7 linked regions of the Homo sapiens genome follow. The protein of the gene in region 1 interacts with the protein of each later gene in a biochemical or structural test. Each region holds a gene or a part of one and is shown in the gene's direction. Other genes may lie near its edges. The genes, in order: SKP1, CAND1, GLMN, FBXW2, FBXL4, SEC23B and SUGT1.

Region 1 (2,258 bases):
AGCATTAGACATGGTTTCCCTCTAGGGAGCTGGGAGCTTTTGGTGTAGTTCAGGAGAGAAGGCATAAATACTGCTGGGAGGGAGTGGATAACTCTAATAAAAATGTTCCTGGGCTGGGCACGGTGGCTCACGCCTGTAATCCCAACATTTTCAGAGGCTGAGGTGTGCAGATCACGAGGTCAAGAGATCGAGACCATCCTGGCCAACATGGTGAAACCTCATCTCTACTAAAAATACAAAAATTAGCTGGGCGTGGTGGCACATGCCTGTAGTCCCAGCAACTCGGGAGGCTGAGGCAGGAGAACCGCTTGAACCCGGGAGGCGGAAGTTGCAGTGAGCCGACATCACGCCACTGACTGCAGTCCAGCCTGGCGACAGAGCGAGACTCCGTTTCAAAAAAAAAAAGTTTCTGGACAGAACAGATTAATGAGCCAATGGGGGGCTACAGAGCTGAAAGGTGCTACGAAAGGTTTTGTAAAGTGAAACTAATTTGGTTTCAAGAATCAAGTTGGATTTGTTTGGGGGTGGACAGATGCCAAAGTGAGGAAAAAGCAGTGCACAGTCAGGAACTAACAGCAGAAGGTTGGGTGTTGGTACATTTCCCTGAGAATATAGACTAAAGAGAAATTAGGGCAGGATTAGTCACAGTACTTTGCTGACACTCAGTAGTATTTTATCAGCATTTATTCATCAGACCCACATTAGGCAGGGCAATTTTTGAGTGAGCTAAATTCTAATTTTTTTAATTTTAATTTTTATTTATTTATTTTTTGGCTGTTCAACTAAACCAGTCTTTTGAATGTTGGGGGTTTTACAGTTAGAGTCCTGATGACTTTTTCTTGTTTACTGTTGTTAAAAATCACTACCTCCAGTGGTCACAGAGAATGAGTAAGAGAACTGGCTGTGCATATCAAGATGAAGTATGGTGTAAGAAATATTTCAGAGCATGTCCTTTGGCCCAAGATTGAGCCATTTGGACACCTAAGCAGGATTGGCTGAATGTTATCCTTTCTGCTGAGGCATCAGTGGAGATGATCATTAGTGGTGGCCGAAAAGTGTTGTCGAAGGTGCTCTTGCTTGACACACTTCCAATGCGGGACATAGTTTGAGTGATAGATGGCTAATTCATTGATAATGTACTTGTTGCCTTGCAGTCTTGTGTACTGCTGGCTACCTCTGGTCTGTGTGCCAGTATTGAGCAGCATTCTATGGGAGGAATGTAGTTGCTCATAACAGTGTCTGCTTCCACATCTGTAGTTCTTGCGACCTTCTGATATCTGTCAACTTTAAATTTTCTGGAAGTATTTAAGTATATTCAGACCTTCTGATATCTCTTAACTTCAAATTTTCAACCTGCTATATAGCAGCCTCTTATTGCACACTGAGGATCAGCTTATTTCCTTAAAGTGCTCTCACTTTGAATACCTCCCACCTATCTGGTGAAAATTCTTATTTGTCCTTTCTTTCCTGAATGTACCATTTCACAACCTCTAACTGCCTTCTTCAGTTGCTTTGCAGATTTTTCTGTTCCAGGAAGCTTACGGAAAGGGGTGGGAAAATAGAGAAGCTGTACTCTATCCTCAAGTACTCAAGCAGGGTTTCCAGAGTGGCTTTGTAAAAATTTTTATTTATTTATTTATTTATTTTTGGTGAGTGGAACCTGGCTTTTCCTCTTCCCTCCCCAAGCCCCACCCCGCTTCCTGACATTGCACATGCCTGAAAGAACTAGGCTTCAGATAAAAGAATGAGAACACTTGAATGAAAAAGGAAGACTTGGTCCAGAGCCCCTGGTGAATATGAAAGAAGTATTGGCCTGGACTATCTCCCGCATAATTCACAGCTGCTATCTTGTCTTCAGAAGTGAAACATCCCTTACCAATAGTGACCTAACTTGTGAGGACTGCTTGTGATAGTATAGTTCCCACCCCCAGGACATAAGTTTTCCCTTTCCAGTTAACATGCCTAATCCCATGCTATCTTTAAGAGCTTGAAAATCCTTCCTGACCTGAGCTAGGCTTTTATTCTAAGGGACTGTGTATGTGAACATCCCCACCATCTATGTTTCCTGTTTTCAAACTCGGTGCCGTTTTGAGTATTTTCAGATGCTCACTGCCAGTAATGGTTTGTTAGTAGCTCCAAACTATTAGAGAAGAGCTCAGGAGTCAGAATTTGAAAGATGCCCATAGGGTGATTTGAGATTTGGAACAAGGTTATCACAATAAGTTGGGATTGGGGGAGTTGACACAACCAGGGTCTGC
Region 2 (3,500 bases), on another chromosome or scaffold:
AAAGGAATGAGATGGCACTGCCTACAGGTCATATCAACCTGGGAATTCCATTGAAGTCTGAAACGTAAACATTTATCTTTTTCTTTTCCCGTCTTAATGCCTTCTTTATCCTTATTTTGGCCTGTTAAATTACCATCCACTGAAAGTCACAAGCAGAAAATCTTTGATATCACCCTTCTCCCGTCTGTCTTCTTTAGTCTCCTGATGAGTATTTCTCAAATTAATCTTGCTGTCTCAGGCCTCTTCCTAACCCAGTTTGTTCCCTCTGGCCATTAGAATTTTCTTCCTATATACTGCAGCTGATCATTGCCTCCCTCACTAATTTCCATTGACTACAAGATAAACTCCAGATTTCTTAGCTGTTGCCCATCTGAATTCGTAGAGACTGCTCTCCTAAAATCCCCAACAGTCTCCCTAGTCTCCTAATATAACTCATTTAGTGGATATTTTCTTTGCTCATCTATTTGGTATATTTTTTTAAATCACTTTTTCCTTCTTGGAATTCTCTTATATGGGCATCCTGACACGAGTTGGGTTTTTGTCCGTAATAGTCAGGGAAAACACACACTTTAGGGTATCAGAGGATGTTAGAAGGAACCTATTCATTTGGGTAATTTGGGAAAGAGTCTAAGGAAGTGAAGCCTTGCTTTAGGTTGAGTGTTGTCAGAAAGTGAGGTCAATTCTATGATTCGGCCTCTTAATAAATTTTACAGGGAGGGCTGACCTAAGCAGGGGGAAAGCTGTAGTTGGTAAAGAAGTATCAGTCACTCATTTAACTGGAGAGGGGAATGTTTGGTATTTTGTATTGCTCAGGGACCTTGTCCGAAATGGATGTTCTGTGAGATTGTTTATGTCCAAGAAAACAATATGCCTTAGCTGTTAAGCATCAGATCGGTTAGTAATAACACTGAGGTTTAGTTATGAGTCTCAGATAAGTTTCTGGAATGTGGAGGCTGCTGTTTTTTTCTTTATCAGTGCCCACTTTTGGCCAAGGGTAGACAAAGTTGGGCTGCAGGACATTAATTTTTGATTTTCACATCTTCACTATGGCGGAGATTTTGTTAAGATCAGAGGAATATCCATTCCATGTAGTTTGCAGTTTAACCAAAGTTAATCCTTTCTTCTGTTGTAAGATGAGCAGTTTATTCATCTGATGTGACAATGGCTGCAGGGTAACATTAAGACTCTGGACAAGGATATGTTAGCTGACTGTATTACCCAGTCTTGTGGTTTTCCTTTTACTTCTTTCCTGCTAGCTCATCCTTACCATCCCTATATCTAATCCATTTTGAAGAACTATTAATTTTAGTTTGTAAAATTCAAACCAACTAGTTCTCATTATTTGTAGTATGTTTTGTAACATTATCACAAACACTGAGTTAGCAAGTACTGAACCATTGCTTCTGAGGGAATTATGGAATTAGTTTCTCTGAGTCCTGAGTCACATTATTTTAATCAGTTGATGAGTTTGTAACCTCGTTTTATGAGTGTTTCTTTTAAAGTTGTCTTAATATATATTGCTGATTTATTAACATTGAATTCACAGCCAATAAAGAAGCTTATCTAACACATATGTTTTTTTCAGAAGGCACATTATAGCCTTCTTGCACTTAGGAATGCTAGACAGCATTTCAGCACTGTGCTTGGAGGCCATATTAAACAACAAGAGCGCCAAGAAAAAGCACAAACATGTGAAAAACATGGGCTGAAATAGGCCAAGAAGAAGATGCTTGTTTACAACATGAGAGCTGGAGCTAGAAGGCAGAGTGTTGCTTTGTGCCACCACAGCTGGGAATGTATGTGTTGGATTACTCAAAATTTTCACCACTCGACACTCATCCAAATGACTGTGAAATAGGAAGCATTAATTTTGCTTTACAAATAAATGTTAATGAGTAGGTGAATTTGCAAATATGGAACCTGGGAATAATGAGAATCAACTGTATGTCATTTTTTTTTCCATCTTCATTGATTGCCATAACCTAAGTCAGGCCATCATAATTTCTAACTTAGTCATTCTCCTAACTAGTCTCCATTCAGTATGGCCAAATGAAGATTTGTTCTCTCCAAAGTATGGTCCACAGTATAGCTGGAGTAATGTTTCTGAAATGTAAATCTGATCATTGCATTTATTCCCCATCTGTAACCCAGTTGTTTTTCAGTAGCTTCCCACTCTCTTAGAATAAAGGCTAAAATCCTGATATGGTCTACAAATCCTTTAAATTCCTGGCCCTTGCTTACCTGGCACTAACTTCCTCCTGCTTCACCGTAATTTTGCCTACTCTTTATTTATTTTTGAGACAGAGTGTCACTCTTTTGCTCAGGCTGGGGTGCAGTGACGTGATCTTGACTCACTGCAACCTCCACTGCCCGGCTTCAAGCGACTGCCGCCCAGGTTCAAGCATTTCCCCTGCCTCAGCCTCCCAAATAGGTGGGATTACAGGCATGTACTACCATGCCTGGCTAATTTTGTATTTTTGGTAGAGACGGGGTTTCACCATGTTGTCCAGGCTGGTTTGGAACTCCTGACCTCCACCTGCCTAGGTCTCCCAAAGTGCTGGGATTACAGGTGTGAGCCACCATGCCCAGCTCCTACTCTTCAGATCAGTCTTTCCTGACACAACCCGCAGTTCAGTCTAGGTCATGTTACTTTGTTTATATGATAGTGCTTTCTTGTTTTGGGATGAATCTCACTCTGTCACCTAGGCTGTAGTGCAGTGGCTCAATCTCGGCTCACTGCAACCTCTGTGTCCCAGGTTCAAGCGATTCTCCTGCCTTAGCCTCCCAAGTAGGTGAGATTACAGGTGTACACCACCACACCCAGCTAATTTTTGTAATTTTAGTAGAGACAGGGTTTCACCATGTTGGCCAGGCTGGTGTCGAACTCCTGACCTCAGGAGATCTGCCTGCCTTGGCCTCCCAAAGTGCTGGGATTACAGGCGTGAGCCACTGGCACCTGGCCCCATAGTGTTTTCTTGATAACACTTTCCTTCATAGCATTTATCTTAGTTCTTAGTTCTACAGGTGCTTACTCATACATGCAATTTAAAAAGTTAATATGCCTTTTACTAGACTGCAATGTAAGCTCCAAGACAGCAAGAATTGTGTGTGCTTTGGTTAGCCCTTATATCAGCAAAAACTAGTACAGTACCTGATATGTAGTAGGTTCTTATTACACAGTGTATGAGTATATAACGCCATTCCCATTTTGACCTCAGCCTATATTCCCATCATCTTCCTATTAGGTTTCTGTGCTCCACATACTGAACTGTTTCCTTAGTCCTTCACTCTGAGGTGCTCTGTCCTTCCCCACCACCAAAAAAAAAAAAAAAAGTAATTTAAATTCCAAACCAATTTTTCCCATGCAAACCCCTGTTCATCCTTTGAGATCCAACCTAACAGTCAACTCTTGGGTGTGATAATTTCCATATGCTCTTGAGTAGTGTTTTATAAAATGTATTGAGATCTGTGCCCTTAGCACCATACCTAAAAGAGTAAAT
Region 3 (3,500 bases), on another chromosome or scaffold:
ACATGCTCCTTTAGCTTGGAGGAGTTTGTTATTACTCAACTTCTGAAGCCTACTTCTGTCAGTTCATCAAACTCATTCTCTGTCCAGTTTTGTTCCCTTGCTGGCAAGGAGTTGTGATCCTTTGGAGAAGAGGTGTTCGTGTGCTTGGAATTTTCAGCCCTTTTCCGCTGCTTTTTCCTCGTCTTCGTGGATTTCTACCTTTGGTCTTTGCTGTTGGTGACCTTTGGGTGGAGTTTTTGCTTGGGTCATCCTTTTTGTTGACGTTAATGCTATTGCTTTGTGTTTGTTAGTTTTCCTTCTAACAGTCAGGCCCCTCTTCTGCAGGTCTGCTGCAGTTTGCTGGGGGTCCACTCCAGACCCTGTTTGCCCGGGTATCACCATTGGAGGCTGCAGAACAGCAAAGATTGCTGCCTGCTCCTTCCTCTGGAAGCTTCATCCCAGAGGGGCACCCGCCAGATGCCAGCCGGAGCTCTCCTGTATGAGGTGGCTGTTGACCCCTGCTGGGAGGTGTCTCCCTATCAGGAAGCACGAGGGGTCAGGGACCCATTTGAGGAAGCAGTCTGTCCCTTAGCAGAGCTCAAGCGCTGTGCTGAGAGATCTGCTGCTCTCTTCAGAGCTGGCAGGCAGGAATGTTTGTCTGCTGAAGCTGCACCCACAGCCACCCTTTCCCCAAGGTGCTCTGTCCCAGGGAGATGGAAGTTTTATCTATAAGCCCCTGACTGGAGCTGCTGCCTTTCTTTCAGAGATGCCCTGCCCAGAGAGAGGAGGAATCTAGAGCTTAAGTTTTTTTTCAATTTCCATTTCTATTTAAGATTCAGGGGTGCAGGTTTGGTACAGGGGCATATTGTGTAAGTTGTTTCTTTCTCTAAGATAAAACATATCCATGAAATATTTGCAGAGCCGGATGACTTCTATATGAATTAGAAGAAAGGGGAAACCTGGGTCTTGTTCATGGCTTTTTATTTCTTCATTACCATCACTGACTGTATTCTTTGCAGGGTTCCTGACTGTTCTGGCAATAAATTTCATTGTAGTGTAGAACTGCCTAGTCTTCCTTTTGTGAGAGAGATATGCTACAGTGAATTTTGAAATGTATAGTTTTAAGCCTTAGAACTGGAAATCAGTAAGCCTCCTTGGGTATGAAATTAAAAGCAGGTATTTGTGAACATTTCAAATTTTTAATTATAACTATTTTAAAACTCTTAATTTACTTTTTCTAGACACTGAAAGATTTTAAGAAATCTTAAAATGTGATTTTCTTTGTAGTATTTATTATTTCTTTAAAAACGATCTGGTAACCTTGAGAGAAAAAATATTCTTATTCTCACAGCTTCTTCACTCCTACATGCTTCTAAAAATATTACAGTTTATCATCTGAAAAATTTGTGGAATTATGCTGAACAGAATATGTAAAAAATTTCTTTAGGCTACTTTTGGCATGTGTTTTTATTACCTGAAGTTTTATGATTATGGGCTATTGCCATTGAAAACAGCTAAGGTTTTAACATTCAAAGATCTAGATTTGCACTGTCCAATACAGTAGACAGTAGACACATGTGACTATTTAAATTTATATTAATTTTTTTTTCCTTTTGAGTTGGGGTCTCACTCTATAGCCCAGGCTGGAGTGCAGTGGCGCAATCACGGCACATTGCAATAACAACCTCCTGTACTCAGGTGATCCTCCCATCTGGGATTACAGGCATGAGCTACTGCGCTGGGCCAGTACTCTTTATTAATATGTGATTATTTCCATTTGAGAAATTTGAAACATTAAAAGAAAACGTTTGGTTAGAGATACATTTGCTTTTTAAAGTCCTGATTTAGTAATTTGGTTAAAATTTTTGGCTGAAGAGAATTAGTGAAGCTTAATTGTATATTTGTACCAATGAATGATTATAAAACTTTATCACTGTAATCCCAGCACTTTGGGAGGCTGAGGCGGGCAGATCACCTGAGGTTAGGAGTTAGAGACCAGCCAGTCCAACATGGCGAAACCCCATCTCTACTAAAACTACAAAAAAATTAGCTGGGCATGGTGGCAGACGCTTATAATCCCAGCTACTCTGGAGGCTGAGGCAGGAGAATTGCTTGAACCCAGTAGGTGGAGGCTGCAGTGAGCTCAGATCATGCCTCTGCACTCCAGCCTGGGCAACAGAGCAAGAAGACACCATCTTAAAAAAAAAAAAAAAAGTTTTGGGAATCAGATTTAAAAGAATTTCCATTACAAAGTAAAACTGAAAGGATGAAAGAAAAAAATTTTCAACTTAGAACTTCTACAAGAGGAAAGTTTTTCATGGATACAAATTCTTTGGTTATATTTTTGCAAATATTCCAGTCTGTGGCTTGTGTTTTAATAGTATTTTTCAAAGAACAGAAATTTTAATATTTATGGAGTCCAACTTATCAATTTTATTCTTTTATGATTCATTATTTATGGGTTCTAAGAAGTCTTTGTTAACCCAGATCACAAAGGTAATTTCTTGTAGAAATTGTATAGTTTTAGGTTTTACACTTAGGTCAATGACCCCATTTCAAGTAAACTTTTTATGATATGAGATATGGGTTGAGAGATTTTTTTTTCTTTTATTTTGACCTCAACACTATTTGTAGAAAAGGTTATCCTTAATTTACTGAATTATCTTGGCAACTTTATCAAAAATCATTTTATAAGTATGGGTCTATTTTTGGACTCTATTCCATTTACCTGTATCTATTCTTTTACCAATACCACACTGTCTTGATTCCTTTATAGGAAGAAATTATTCTGTTTTATTCCTTTATAGGAAGTCTTGACCTCAAGTAATGTGAGTCTGCCAACTTTGTTCTTCTTTTTCAAAATTGTATTGGCTATTTTTAAATCCTTTACCTTTTCTGTATAAATTTTAGAATTTTGTCAATTTCTGCCACAAAGAGTTTTAATTCCACTTATGGCATTCTGGAAAAGGCAAAAATTACCTTAACAAAAATCAGATTGCTGGTTGCTGGAGGTGGGAGGAAACTGACTACAAAGGGGCACAAAGAAATTTCTGGGTCATGGGAATATCTTTACAGCAGCAGTGGTTACATGACTTTATATCACTATATATCTTTGTCAAAGCTCAGAATTGTATAGCTAGAAGGTTATATTTTACTGTATGTAAACAATATCTCAACAAACCTGACTTTGAAAAATAATAAAAAGAAAAGAACTAGGCTCAATAGTGAATTAGACTGAAATTACCTCATGAACAGGCAAGCACACTGATTATGTAAAAATCTTTCTGATGTTTACTTTTGAATTGTTTATTCTCCATTTTTCTACATTAAAGTATTAAGATTAAATGTGTTATATGGAAAGGATTTGAGGGAAAACTTTTATTTCAACTATATAAATAAACGTGTGAGTTGTGATGTAAAACCTAGTTTTTACTGAGAGTCATGGCAAAAATAATTTGAAAAACAGTATCCTAGAAAAACTTTTACCCCGTGTGAATGGGAAAACATACAGCAATGTAAAT
Region 4 (2,971 bases), on another chromosome or scaffold:
TTGCAGAAGCCCCAGGAGACTTTGGGCAATGATGATGGTAAATGACTTTTTACTTTATTATTATTTTTTTTTTTTTGAGACAGAGTTTCGCTCTTACTGCGCAGGCTGGAGTGCAATGGCACGATCTTGGCTCACTGCAACCTCCGCCTCCTGGGTTCAAGTGATTCTCCTGCCTCAGCCTCCTAAGTAGCTGGGATTACAAGCATCTGCCATGACACCCAACTAATTTTTATATTTTTAGTAGAGACAGGGTTCCACCATGTTGGCCAGGCTGGTCTTGAACTCCTGACCTCAGGTCATCCACCTGCCTTGGCCTCCCAAAGTGCTGGGATTACAGGCGTGAGCCACCACGCCTGGCCGAGTTTTTACTTTTTATCGAGCCTGAACAGATAACTATTACTGATCTAATGACCATCCCCACCCTACCTCACTTTCAGATCTATCCAATAGCTTCAAAGGGCAAGTAATTATAATCATTTGTGGGAAAAGTTTTATTAAAAAGTGACAAACTTGAAGCTGTATATAGTATGTTCTATTTCAGTTTTTAGTGGTGAATACAGAAGTCATCAAGGTGGTACTTGGTGCCGCTGGAATTTTTTTTTTTTCCTAGGCAGTCTTGCTCTGTCATACAGGCTGGAGTACAGTGGCATCATCATGCAGCTGGATTTTGACAGCAGAACTTCAGGCAGTAATTGGAGTCCTAATGTCAGTTCTTCCTTATGGAGGCCTTTATTTGGCCTGAGATTTTATTCAACTACTTTATAGATGCTGGGTTTATTCATACTATCGCCAGTTTTTATAAAAATGGAAAACTAGCTCATCCTTTTTGCAAAAGAAAGCAAAGTGGGGAGTCAGAATGAGAAGTGGATAGGGGATAACTAAAACTATTCTTTACTCTCCTTTCATTGCCTTTGAGAGCTAGCTCTTGCACACACTGACTTTGGCTTCCTTAGCGCATAGGTAAGGGAATTGCCTTTCCCTCTTTTGTGAATATTCTCATTTCTGAAAAATTCTAAGTCATGAGAAGATAAGCCCTATCCTTTCTTACAAGGATTGGATTTCTTGGGTGACACTGTGGTGTGGTGGAAGCCAGCGGCTTCTTTCAGGTTCATAAAGGCCATCATAACAACTTCAGGCTTCATGGTGTGGACAGGGATCCAGGAGAGCTGAGTGGATGTGTGAAGTTTCTGATAGATTCTGTCATCATTCCAAAGGAATGTAGTTTCCTCCAGCTCAATCATTTGAAGTAATACACATTGCCAAATCTGACTGTAACCTGACATTTTAGACCTATTGGAGAAATAGGAAGAAAGCCCCTCCAGTGGAAGGACTGGACTTGGAAGAAGTTCTGCAGGAAGGTGCATGCAATTGGATAGCTGTTCATGAGTGAAACGTGGGGAACATTGCTATGAAATTGTAAGGTTTGCACTTCATTTTTCGTAGTTTAAAAATTGCTCTGTTCTGGCTGTTGAAAACACTTGGTGTGAGGTTTGAATGAGGATTATATAATCATTCTAGTATTCATAGGAAAATGATTACTGCTCTCTATTTGTAAAACAAAAGAAATAACTTTCGGAAACAGTATTTTAGACATGAGGAAATTGTTTGTATTAGGCATTTTGATCTAACAGAATCAGCTAAGGATAGTGGATCCTGGCTTTACACATTTCTTTGACCAAACCCAGCTGGCAACTTGAAGTTGTTACTGTGTGGCTTCCAGATTGCCTAGAGGTGAATCCTACCAACATCACTGTTTTTTTTGTTTTGTTTTGTTTTTTTTGTATGTTTTTGAGACAGAGTCTTGCTCTATCCCCAGGCTGGAGTGCAGTGGCGTGATCTCGGCTTACTGCAACCTCAGCCTCCTGGGTTCAAGCGATTCTCCTGCCTCAGCCTCCTGAGTAGCTGAGACTACAGGCGCGTGCCACCACGCCCAGCTATTTTTGTATTTTTAGTAGAGACGAGGTTTCACTATGTTGGCCAGGATGGTCTTGATTTCTTGACCTCGTGTTCTGCCCGCCTCTACCTCCCAAAGTGCCGGGATTACAGGCGTGAGCTGCTGTGCCCGGCCCCAGCATCACTTTTATAGCTTTCTGTGCCTCTTCCTCTGGGCCTTGGTGTATGAAGCCACTTGCCTTTCTCTGTTGGGAAGCGAGCAGAATCAGATTGCTACTCATGATGCAGTCCGGGCAGGGCATACTGTCACCTTTGCCTGTGGACACAGTTGTCAGGATAGGGGAGAAGCCCTTTAGGTCCGTCTTCTTGACACAGCCCTCCTACCTGGTTACGCTGGTGCTTTCGCTTGGTTTAGACAACCAAGACACTTGAGAATTATGCTGTCCTCAGAATGTCTGATGAAAAGAACAGATTCACTTTTTTGACACAATGCCCATTAGCCATCTTTGGCAGTGTTTCTGATCAAAGGTTCCCCATGCCTGCTCTAGGAAAGTAAACTTTTTTCAGAATAAATCCTCAAATGGATTACTGAGTAGTCTTTGCACCATTCCCATCAGCCTAATCAGACTGAATGGTCACGCTCAGTGCAAAAAGCTGTTTTGCTGTTAGGATGTTTCAGTGTTTCTTGTCTTTCCTGGAACAGTTCAGTTGTTTAAATTTAGTAATTCAATCCTGACCAGTGTAAACCCACTTAATTATTGCAGCCTAAAGAATTCAGCTACTTCTACTCTTCATAAATGTGCCCAAGTAAATATGTGTTTTTAATATTCAACCCTGGAAAATTAGTAATTCAGATGATAAAAGCTCATGTTTTGGTGTCTTTGTACTCAGATTGTGAACAGGCATATTTCACTGATTTAGACTTAGTATACTTGATGAGAATGCTCAGGTTGAAGAGATAGTTCTGTCAGCAATCCAACATCTATAGCAATGTGGAAAAAGTAATCAACTCATATTTCACGAATTTGATGTATGTTGTGATTTAGAGGGCATGAGATAAAGTTTATATTTGAACTGT
Region 5 (3,500 bases), on another chromosome or scaffold:
AATTAAAAAAAAAACAAACCTAATGTTATGTTCCTGTCTGTTAATTAGTTAACATGGCTAAGTATTGTGAAGAACCTGAAAATTAAATTATCTTAATATACCCTTTCTAATGTTAACATTCTGAGAGCTACATGGGATTGTTTTATAAATGTTGTTATGTTGAAACTTAAGTATAAAATCAATATAAACTTTTTTTGTTTAAATTCAAAGAAATGCTCAATAATGAAATAATTAGACTTAAGTATAATAGTCCTCTGTGGCCTATTGTAACTATTATTATTTTTGCTTTAAGTAACCTTACATTTGAGAAATATTTTATTACTTTATTTTCTCAATGAGAATCTTTATCTGGGATTTGACCAAATGTTTTACATTTTCATTGACACATTCTTCACCTTTCCCTCAACTGATAGTTTTTAGTTTCTGATCACTTGGAACAGATTTTTACAGAAGTTGTATAATATCTTAATTTTTAAATATATTTAAAAATGTATAAGATATTTTGCCATGTAAGTTTGAATAGTTTTCTCCTTAATTGATAAAAGAAAAATTAGAAATTTGAATATTTTGCATTATTTTGTTTTTCACAATTTTTCATAGCAGACTTTTTTAAAAAAATATTTTAGGGTGCCATGATTATGTAGCAGTCTTTGGGTTTCTTTAGTGGTGAGACCATTTTCATTGCACAGGATAGATGGGCTTAAATGGCAGGAACATGACTAGAAAGTACATATTATATATATTTCAGTCAGCATGTTGCTACTGACAGGTGCTCAATGGTTGTTGGTATCCTTGTCAGCAAAGAGAATCCTTTGACATTAAAGTCACCAGCTCAATCCTGATTTGGGGTGACTCTATTGGCAGTTCCATCAAGCTGCAGCTGATCAGTGAATGTCAGAGCTGCAGCCATTCTTCAGGAGTGTCACCAGCCTGCTGCGGGTTTTTTGTCTTTTTGTTTTTGTTTTTGGAGGGAGGAGTGGTTTAGCTTGTCTTGTTGTTCAATTGTAGCCAGACTTTCAAATTGCTTACCTTTGGGAAATGAACCGAGAGGTCATAGGGAATATAGGTATCTTTAGGGCATCCAAAACCATACACAAAGTGATTACTTACATGGAGACTAGTAATGATTACCTTGACTCCAAGCCAATCAATGGTGGAGCCTCTGGGGACTCATTAAATGGCATTTGTGGACTCTGTAACCTAGCTTTTGAGCTGCATTTCAGGAAAAGCAGTGACAGCCTTTAATGTCTAATTGACCTCTTCTCTTTGTTTCACTTTCATTCACTTTCCATATTTGCCTCTGATGTGGTCCCTAATGGCAGCAAACAGCACTGCTCAGCATTTTGAACTTCTGTTCAGAGCTTCAGCACCTCAGTTTAGGCAGTTGTGTCATGGTAAGTGTTTGAGAATTCTTTATACTACTCAATTACTTGTTCTCTTTTTCTTCCTATGGGTGAAATGTATCCTGACTCACCCTACCCCACACACACCCACAGTTTTTCAGATTTATGGTTCTCTTCTTTGTCCCTTGCTTTCAAACATTTTTCTTAAATTGGAAAGTATGTCTTTGAAACACTGACATTATTTATCCATGAGAGCAAGGAAAGAAGTATAGTGTGGTGGAATAGAGTATAGTTCTGCCTCAAGCCAGATGTTGTCTCCGACAAGCTAATCACCTCTCTAGGTTTCTTCACAAACTAAGGTGTTAGTCATACCTAAATGCCGATAGTTCAGTAAGTTTTTCACTAAGCTCATTTTAGCTTTTAAATCCTGAGATACTTTTCTTGAAATTTTAATGATAATAGATAGGTTTATTTTATCTGTTTGTTTTTGTGTTTGTTTTACTGTCCTTACTGGTCAAAACAGAAAGATTAACACCCTATGTTGGAACTCTTTTTTGTGTGTGGAAATTTTACTGGTCTGTGAAATATAAAAGCCTAGGGACTGTTGGACTAGATAAGCTTCAAAGTCCTTCCAGATTTTTTTTTTTTTTTTTTTTTTTTTGAGATGGAGTCTTGCTCTGTTGCCCGGGCTGGAGTGCAGCGGCGCGATCTTGACTCACTGCAATCTCCGTCTCCCGGATTCAAGCAATTCTCCTGCCTCAACCTCCCAAGTAGCTGGGATTACAGGGATGTACCACTATGCCCGGCTAATTTTTTTGTATTTTTAGTAGAGATGGGGTTTCACCCTATTGGTCAGGCTGGTCTTGGGTTTCACCATATTGGGCAGGCTGGTCTTGGGTTTCACCATATTGGGTAGGCTGGTCTTGAACTCCTGACCTTGTGATCCGCCCGCCTCGGCCTCCCAAATTGCCGGGATTACAGGTGTGAGCCACTGCGCCCAGCCTAGTCCTTCCAGATTTAAAATACGATTTTATGTGCCCTTGAAAGAGCTCATGGAAAGAGTTAAATGTTTTAATCTAAACCACATAATTATATAGCTTTTAAATAATACTGAGATATAAAGGACAATAGAAATCTTGTGTGGAGAAGGTGTGCATGTGTGTGTTTGTGTGCACACATACCGTAAGTGAATCTTCCAGTGTAACTGACTGGAAGAATTCATTCCTCCTCACTTCATCCCCTGTTCCCTAAAACAATGTAGGTTTAGGAGATCCCCAGACCATTCCATTTCTGCCTTGCATTCACTTAGTAGGAAGACTTGAATTAGCAAAATGATTGCAAGATTCTAGAAAACTTCTGGTATGCTAGGGAGTATTTGCTTTAAGTAACCTTACATTTTGAGAAATATTTTATTAGAGTCAATAGACAGGGTCCCTGACCTAAAATGAGTACCATTTGAACACCTCTTAGAGCTCAGTGTGGCTTCAGAAATGCCTCAAGATTTGGCAGTGTAGACTAAGTAGGCCTCTTTTGATGACATATTTATCTCTGTGTCCCCATGGTCTTTAAAATCTTGTGGTTAGGTCTTATTAAACCCTAAGTATGGGCTCAGGCCATCTCAGTCTCTAGAAACAGTCTTGGGAGCCCACTAGATTTTCCTCACTTCTGGTCAAATTCTTTCCATAGTAAGCCATTTGATAGGCTTCTGTGGGTCTCTTCAGTGACTCTTCTTGATGGACCCGATGACATTTGATGGCAGTTTCTGTCACAACAAACCAGCCAGTTACTGCCACTTGGATCTTCCTTATTGCTAGCCTGCTCTCTTTAGATTGGTAAGGACCATTTAACTTTGCTTAGATGTACCTTATTCTGCTTGTTATTTACCTCCCCTTAAACTGGAGCAACATTCCTTAGAAAATCAAGCCTCTGGCCATAGACTCTTTACTGTTGGAATTATATATATGCTTATAATTGAAATTGTATTATTTTAAGTTAGCATTTTCCAGAGTTGACCCATGGAAAATTACCTCTAAAGGATAATCAATTTTAAAGGCTGTGTATTTGGGGGTGGAGTGGAGATTCCTAATGAAATTAGGAAGCCAGGTATGGTTGCTCAAACCTATAGTCCCAACTACTCTGGAGGCTGATGTAGGAGGA
Region 6 (3,500 bases), on another chromosome or scaffold:
GTACAGATGCATATTTTTTTCAAATATTTTCAGTCCAAGATTGGTTGAATTTATAGATGTGGAACCCACCGATACGGAGGGCCAACAGTATTCACAAAAAGTATGTAACATAATAAAATAGATAAGTCCTTATGTAAAAATGTTACATGAAAAAAAGTCAAAATAGAAACGTTTCTAAATATTCCCTGCAAAAATAAAGAACTATATGGAAAAAAACAAAATATCAATATTTGTTGTACTTGGGTACACATTTAAAAATTTTCTTTATCGAGTACCACTTACTTTTATTATTGAAATAATTACTAAAATAGCAGGGGGATCACATGACATCAGGAGTTTGAGACCAGCCTGGCCAATGTGGCGAAACCCCATCTCTACTAAACATACAAAAATTAGCTTGGAATGGCGCCAATAATCCCAGCTACTTGGGAGGCTGAGGCTGGAGAATCACTTGAACCCCGGAGGCGGAGGCTGCAGTGAGTTGAGATCGCGCCACTGCATTCCAGCCTGGGCAACAGAGCAAGACTCCCTCTCAAAAAATAAAAATAAAAAAGAAATAATTACATATATAAAAATTATATGTGTATATGTAAATATAATAAATTATATATGTATATATAAGAACTATGTATATAAATATATATGTATATGATTATATATGTATATATAAATATAAATTATATACTTATATAATATAAAATATTACTTACAAATAAATAATAAACGTATTTTTTTTTGAGATGGGGTGTCTGTCACCCAGGTTGGAGTACAGTTGTGCGATCTTGGCTCACTGCAACCTCCGCCTTCCAGGTTCAGGTGATCCTCCCACTTCAGCCTCCTGAATAGCTGGGACCACAGGCACGTGCCACTACAGCCCGGCTAATTTTTTGTGTTTTTGGTAGAGATGGGGTTTTGCCATGTTGCCCAGGCTGGCTTTGAACTCCTGGGTTCAAGTGATCTGCCTGCCTTGGCCTCCCAAAGTTCTAGGTTTACAGGCATGAGCCACTACGCCCAGCCATAATTTATATTTTGTAGTAAACTTTAAAAACTTGTATTAAATGCTGCTTTTCATATAGGTATCCGTATTCTGTCTCATCTACAGAGAATGTCTGTAGAGATTGCTAAAATACATACAAAACTGAGAATATTCAGAATTATTTTTCGTTCCAAGATCAAAAGATATCATTAAGCCTGGACAACATAGTGTGAGACCCTGTCTTTACAAAAAATAAAAAATTAGTTGGGCGTGGTGGCATGCACCTGTAGCCTCAGCTACTCAGGAGGCTGAGGTGGGAGGGTCACTTGAGCCCAGGAGGTCGAAGCTGCAGTGAGCCAGGGTCACATCACTTTACTCCAGGCTGGGTAACAGAGCAACACCCTGACTCTTAAAAAAAAAAAAGGTATCATTAATCTCCGTTCTCAATTGATGAGGAATTATTTGGAGCCTATTTTTCCTACAAAGTTGAGAATGAGTCAGAAGCAGAAAGTGGAAGTATGTCAGGAAGAAAAGGGGTGACTTACTGTGCTGGGCACCATTTGTAAATAGCCTTTGCTGTGGATACCAGGCATGGGATCAGGGTCGGGTGGAAGTGGTTGCTGTGTGGGGAGCAGGGAAGACCAATGCCATCTTTCTCTCTCTTTTTCTTCAGCCAGTACTCTTGGATAGCAGCAGCATTCTAGCTGACAGAATTTTGCTGATGGATACTTTCTTTCAAATTGTCATTTATCTTGGTGAGGTAAGATGATATTATTAATTAATTAATTTCTTTTTGTTTTTAAATTGGAGAAAAGGCATACACATTTAATGTGCACACAAGGAGAATTATTGTCCTTAACTATGGTTTTTGTTTTCTTCTCTTATTTATTAAGTTAGGTTTTTAATGACATTTGTAACCACAGTTTGGGCTTAGAAAGCACCATGGCTTTTATTCTAGTAAATCCCTGGAGTATTTGTATATTTATTAATTTTAATCATATTTGCTGTTAAGTATGGGCCAGGTGCAGTGGCTTATACCTGTAATCCCAGCACTTTGGGATGCTGAGGTGGGCAGATCACCTGAGGTCAGGAGTTCAAAACCAGCCTGACCAACATGGCAAAACCCCATCTCTACTAAAAATACAAAAGTTAGCCAGGCGTGGTGGCACACACCTGTAGTCCCATCTACTTGGGAGGCTGAGATGGGAGAATCACTTAAACCCGGGAGGTTGAGGTTGTAGTGAGCTGAGATCACACCACTGCATTCCAGCCTGGTCAACAGAGTGAAACTCCATCTCAAAAAATAAATAATAATAATAATAATATATGCTGTAAAAAAATCTCAGGTGGTTATTTTAAATCACTGTAAATTATTACCTTCGAAGTTAGGCAAAACTAGTTTTTTCTCCTCAGTAAATATTTTATACATACTGCTGTTCTTTCAGAGTTATATACATACTGCTGTTCTTTCAGAGTTAGTGTTTAGAGCTAAGGTTGTACTTTGATGAAATAACATGGCCCAGGGAACTTTACGCTGTGTCTGTGGATCCCTAGGATGGCTGTGGATAGCTTTCAGTCCATTTCTTTCTCAGTGGGGTTCATGCCCTGAGAAAGGGAATGGCTCCTCTGAATTATTTGCATCTTTATGGCAAAAAATCCTTTAATGAAGATGATGGTGATATTTATATTCAGTGATGCTTTTTCTTCTATTGTATGATCTCTACCTTCTTAAATTGGTTATTGATTTGGTTTCCTAATGGCCAACCATTAGAAATGATTTCTGATGTCGTGAAAAGATATAAATTGTGTTTCAGGATTCCTTCAGTAACTTAGGAAGTGTTAGTTTTCTAATACTCCTAAGTATTTTATAACTTTAAACTTTTTTCAGCATGTTAACACCCAGTCTGCTAGCCACTTGCACGCAAGTGCTAGGCTGTCAGTAATAGTCCTAGACTGAGAGCCGGATGACCAGCTGCTCTTCCCACTGGAACCTTTGGTATCAGTACAGTTGGCCCTCTGTATCCACGGGTTCCACCTCTGCAGATTCAATCAACTGCAGGTTAAAAATAATTTTGAAATAATAATAAAAAATAATACAAATAAAATATACAGCACAGGCCGGGTGTGGTAGTTCATGCCTGTAATCCCAGCACGTTGGGAGGCCGAGGTGGGCGGATCATCTGAGGTCAGGAGTTCAAGACCAGTCTGGCCAACATAGCGAAACCCTGTCTCTACTAAAAATACAAAAATTAGCTGGGCATGGTGGCAGACACCTGTAATCCCAGCTGCTCGGGAGGCTGAGGCAGGAGAATCGCTTGAACTCAGGAAGTGGAGGTTTCAGTGAGCTAAGATCGAGCCAGTGCACTCCAGCCTGGACGACAGAGTGAGACTCTGTCTCAAAAAACAAAACCAAAAAAACAGCACAAGAACGATTTATATAGTTTCTACATTGTATTAGATATTATAAGTAATCTAAAGATGATTTAAAGTGTATGGGAAGATGTACATCGGTTATATGAAATAC
Region 7 (3,500 bases), on another chromosome or scaffold:
GGAGAAGAGTAGAAAACCAGGCTTCATTGTATATATAACCCTGTAAGAAACAGAACTTTGTGTTGAGGTCAATTTTAAGTATGTGCAATAACTAGGTAAGAATTTTTCTAGTGGACAAATTCACAGCACACTCAGAACTACAACCTAAGATTATATTTTATAGCAATAGCTTCATTAATGAGTGGAGGGAAATTTCTTTTTATTGGAAGTAATGGTCTGATTTAATGACTGAAACAAGCTAACATGTGTCTCAGCTTTTTCTGATTTTGACTGCTTTCTTCTGTAACAGAAAACACATTTCCTTGTGGCACCTTTTAGAAAACACTGAGTTATTCAACAGATCATTTGTGTGTGTGTTTGTGTGTGTGTGTATAGTTATTTCTTAAGAAATAATTTTGGATGTTTAGAAATTTCAAAAATAAGAGATTCTCATATAGCTTTCACCCAGTTTCCCCCATTGATAGTGTCTTAACTAGTCCAATGATTACCTCTTAAGTAGTCTGTGGTATAATTTTCAAAATCAGGGTATTAACACCAACAGATACTTTTTAAGGACTGAAGTATATCTAGTTGGTATTTAAGGTATTTAAGCATCTGCTTCACACTTTATTTGAAAGATGTATGTGTTTCTTTTAGGACTGACTCCAATAGATTTTGAGGCTGAGGTTTATATGTAGCTGAAAGCTTTAAAAAATATATAATCACTTTAAATGTAGTATCTTACTTAATTCTAACAGCCCTGCATAACAGGCAGCCCCTTAGTATTCCTCCCATTTTGCAGGCTCAGAAAAGTTAAGCTCAAGATTATCCCTCAGTTCTCATTGTCTAGGACTAAAATCTAGGTCTTCTCAGTTGGGTCCAGTTATTCTGTTAACCCGTTGTCTACTTGTTGCATACTGCTTGTTGTTGCATTTTCTAACAATGGAAACAGTCTTTGCCGACATGAGTATCTAGTAGTTATTTGATATTATAGTGAATGAGCAGGGAGGTTAGATTACTCATCTCTCAGTAGTTCATCTGCCATCTCCAGGTGTTAAAAGTTTTTCTGAGATTAAAGATCAAGGCTTTTTAGTGTTACAGTTACCATGTTTTTTCTAAACTCAACACCTTAGATATTCAAGATGATACTCTTCCTGTCCTGTTTTTGTAAGAAATTAATATACTTGTCAGATTCCTGTGTATTGCAAGCTGGAGACTGTAGATAAGGGCAAGTCACTTAACCTATCTGACCCAGCTTGCTTATCTACAAAATAGAGATTAAAACCTCTGTTCTCATCCTTCCTGGGAGTCAGCATTAGGATTAATTAAATCCATATTTCCCAGGCTCTTAACTTACCATGGCACGCATTTTTTGTTTTACCTGGCTACTAGTGAAAATGTACAAAGATAGAAGGATATCTAGTAGAAGGAAGGTGGATAGGATTTTCAAAACAATATATTTGGCCCTGAAAAAAAACTATGTGTTGGTGTTGTGTGTGTTGTTTTGTTTTGAGGAGGAATGGGCAGGGAGAAAGTCGGTTTACAAGTGAAGAGAAAGCGTAGAAAAACAGTGGATGTTAGTTTCTCAGCTATTTTGACAAAAGGGATGTAGAGAGCAGTATTGGGAGGAACATTTAGATTAGTACTAATGTGTCCTAATACATACTGATGGGGAAATTTTGAATTGGGTTTTTTGAAAACTGTAGCTCTTTTGTCCAACACAGTAGCTGCTAGCCACATGTTACCTGTTGAGCACTTGAAATATGACTAGTCTGCATTGAGATGATGTGCTATGTGAAATATATGCTACAGTTTGAAGAGTTAGTATGAAAAAAAGAATATAAAATATCTTCATTTTTTTTGTTGGTTTTTTTTTTTTTTTAAGAGAGAGTCTTGCTGTGTCACCCAGGCTGGAATGCAGTGGCACTGTCATGGCTCAGTGTAGCCTCAACCTCCTGGACTCAAGCAGTCCTCTACCCCAACCTTCCGAGTAGCTGGTACTGCAGGCATGTGCCACCACGCCCAGCTAATTATTATTATTTTTTTTTCATAGAGATGGGCTCTCACTATGTTGCCCAGGCTGGTCTCACACTTCTGGCCTCAAGCAATCCTCCTACTTGGCCTCCCAAAGTGCTGGGATTATAGGTGTGAGCCCCCATGCCCGGCCTCTGTTGGTTTCAAGTCAATATGATACTATATTTGATATATCAGGTTAAATAAAATGTATTATTAAACTGCATTTCACCTGATTCTTTTTAGTAATGTAGTTACTAGGAAGTTTTAAATTATATATGTGACTCACATTTGAGGCTGTCATTATATTTTCATTGGATAGTCAACAGAGCTGCTCCTATAGCTACTAGGTTGTCTAGTTATTTTCTAATTATTTGTGTGCCAAGATCTTGATGCCTTTGGTCTTTGGAGCAATCTTGGCAGTACCCCGAGCCCCTGGGCCAGTAGCCTCTCTCGCTGCAAGCAGCTCTGTTTACTCCAGTGTGCCCTACAAATACTATTATTTGCTAGGTGTATGGGATGTGGGCATTGAACTTTAGATCATCAAGTGTAGTACTTTAAACATTTAGAAATTACTTACTGTTATTGCCTATTAAAATAATCTTACTTTTTTGATGGGAGAGTATGGAGTGGCATGGATGATTATTTATATTTTCAGGCTATTTATACTCTGAAAGATACTAAGTACTTTAGAAAAAGTCACATTTTTAACATTTATTAAAATCTTAGTTACAAAAGATTTCTTAGGCATCCTTTAAAAAATTTCATTTTTAGAATTGTTCGTACTGTCTCTGCAACTTTTCTGAAAACATAAAAGTTCTGTATACTTTTCATCTAGTTTCTGTTATCAACATGAAGAATCTGCTTTTAATCTAATTTTGTATAGCATATCAAAAGTTTACACTTTATTGAGTTATTTTGCTCAAAAGAAATCCCCAGATTTTACATTATGGTAACTGACTCAGTTTTTAGAAATGTGAATTTTGTTATTGACCTATATACCAGAAAGACACTTATTGCATACCTGAAATTCAGTAACCTAAACTGTTTGCTAAGATGTTCCATATACATGGTCACAAAGTTTACATATTCTCGACATAATTGAAACATGTTGATTAATTACTTCTGCCTTTTTTTACTTCATAGATGTAAAGAACCTATATCCATCATCATCTCCTTATACAAGAAATTGGGATAAATTGGTTGGTGAGATCAAAGAAGAAGAAAAGAATGAAAAGTTGGAGGGAGATGCAGCTTTAAACAGATTATTTCAGCAGATCTATTCAGATGGTTCTGATGAAGTGAAACGTGCCATGAACAAATCCTTTGTAAGAATATAAACTTAAAGAAATATATATGGGAGCAAATTTTACATATTTTAAACGAGAAAATTGGTAATGTGAGACCAAATTGCGTGTACTATAGCTGGGAGAACTTTTTGAATAAGGTCTGTCTGAACGTTTCTTTTTGCTCTAAGAGTAATTTTTGAGGAAGTTGAAAACTTATGG

The links.
Region 2: the proteins of SKP1 (region 1) and CAND1 form a complex in vitro, tested with the Homo sapiens proteins (one study listed by BioGRID).
Region 3: the proteins of SKP1 (region 1) and GLMN form a complex in vitro, tested with the Homo sapiens proteins (one study listed by BioGRID).
Region 4: the proteins of SKP1 (region 1) and FBXW2 form a complex in vitro, tested with the Homo sapiens proteins (2 studies listed by BioGRID).
Region 5: the proteins of SKP1 (region 1) and FBXL4 form a complex in vitro, tested with the Homo sapiens proteins (one study listed by BioGRID).
Region 6: the proteins of SKP1 (region 1) and SEC23B interact in a test that uses a peptide from one of them, tested with the Homo sapiens proteins (one study listed by BioGRID).
Region 7: the proteins of SKP1 (region 1) and SUGT1 form a complex in vitro, tested with the Homo sapiens proteins (2 studies listed by BioGRID and IntAct, with this or other methods).

Annotation. Positions count from the first base shown.
Region 1 is NC_000005.10:134,150,693-134,152,950, reverse strand, and holds part of SKP1 (S-phase kinase-associated protein 1), read left to right. Parts: 3' UTR 1-2,258. UniProt on the Homo sapiens protein: Essential component of the SCF (SKP1-CUL1-F-box protein) ubiquitin ligase complex, which mediates the ubiquitination of proteins involved in cell cycle progression, signal transduction and transcription.
Region 2 is NC_000012.12:67,275,858-67,279,357, forward strand, and holds part of CAND1 (cullin-associated NEDD8-dissociated protein 1), read left to right. Parts: intron 1-3,500. UniProt on the Homo sapiens protein: Key assembly factor of SCF (SKP1-CUL1-F-box protein) E3 ubiquitin ligase complexes that promotes the exchange of the substrate-recognition F-box subunit in SCF complexes, thereby playing a key role in the cellular repertoire of SCF complexes.
Region 3 is NC_000001.11:92,250,488-92,253,987, reverse strand, and holds part of GLMN (glomulin), read left to right. Parts: intron 1-3,500.
Region 4 is NC_000009.12:120,759,446-120,762,416, reverse strand, and holds part of FBXW2 (F-box/WD repeat-containing protein 2), read left to right. Parts: 3' UTR 1-2,971. UniProt on the Homo sapiens protein: Substrate-recognition component of the SCF (SKP1-CUL1-F-box protein)-type E3 ubiquitin ligase complex.
Region 5 is NC_000006.12:98,878,447-98,881,946, reverse strand, and holds part of FBXL4 (F-box/LRR-repeat protein 4), read left to right. Parts: intron 1-1,322; coding exon 1,323-1,394; intron 1,395-3,500. UniProt on the Homo sapiens protein: Substrate-recognition component of the mitochondria-localized SCF-FBXL4 ubiquitin E3 ligase complex that plays a role in the restriction of mitophagy by controlling the degradation of BNIP3 and NIX mitophagy receptors.
Region 6 is NC_000020.11:18,549,440-18,552,939, forward strand, and holds part of SEC23B (protein transport protein Sec23B), read left to right. Parts: intron 1-1,649; coding exon 1,650-1,736; intron 1,737-3,500. UniProt on the Homo sapiens protein: Component of the coat protein complex II (COPII) which promotes the formation of transport vesicles from the endoplasmic reticulum (ER).
Region 7 is NC_000013.11:52,676,836-52,680,335, forward strand, and holds part of SUGT1 (protein SGT1 homolog), read left to right. Parts: intron 1-3,138; coding exon 3,139-3,320; intron 3,321-3,500. UniProt on the Homo sapiens protein: May play a role in ubiquitination and subsequent proteasomal degradation of target proteins.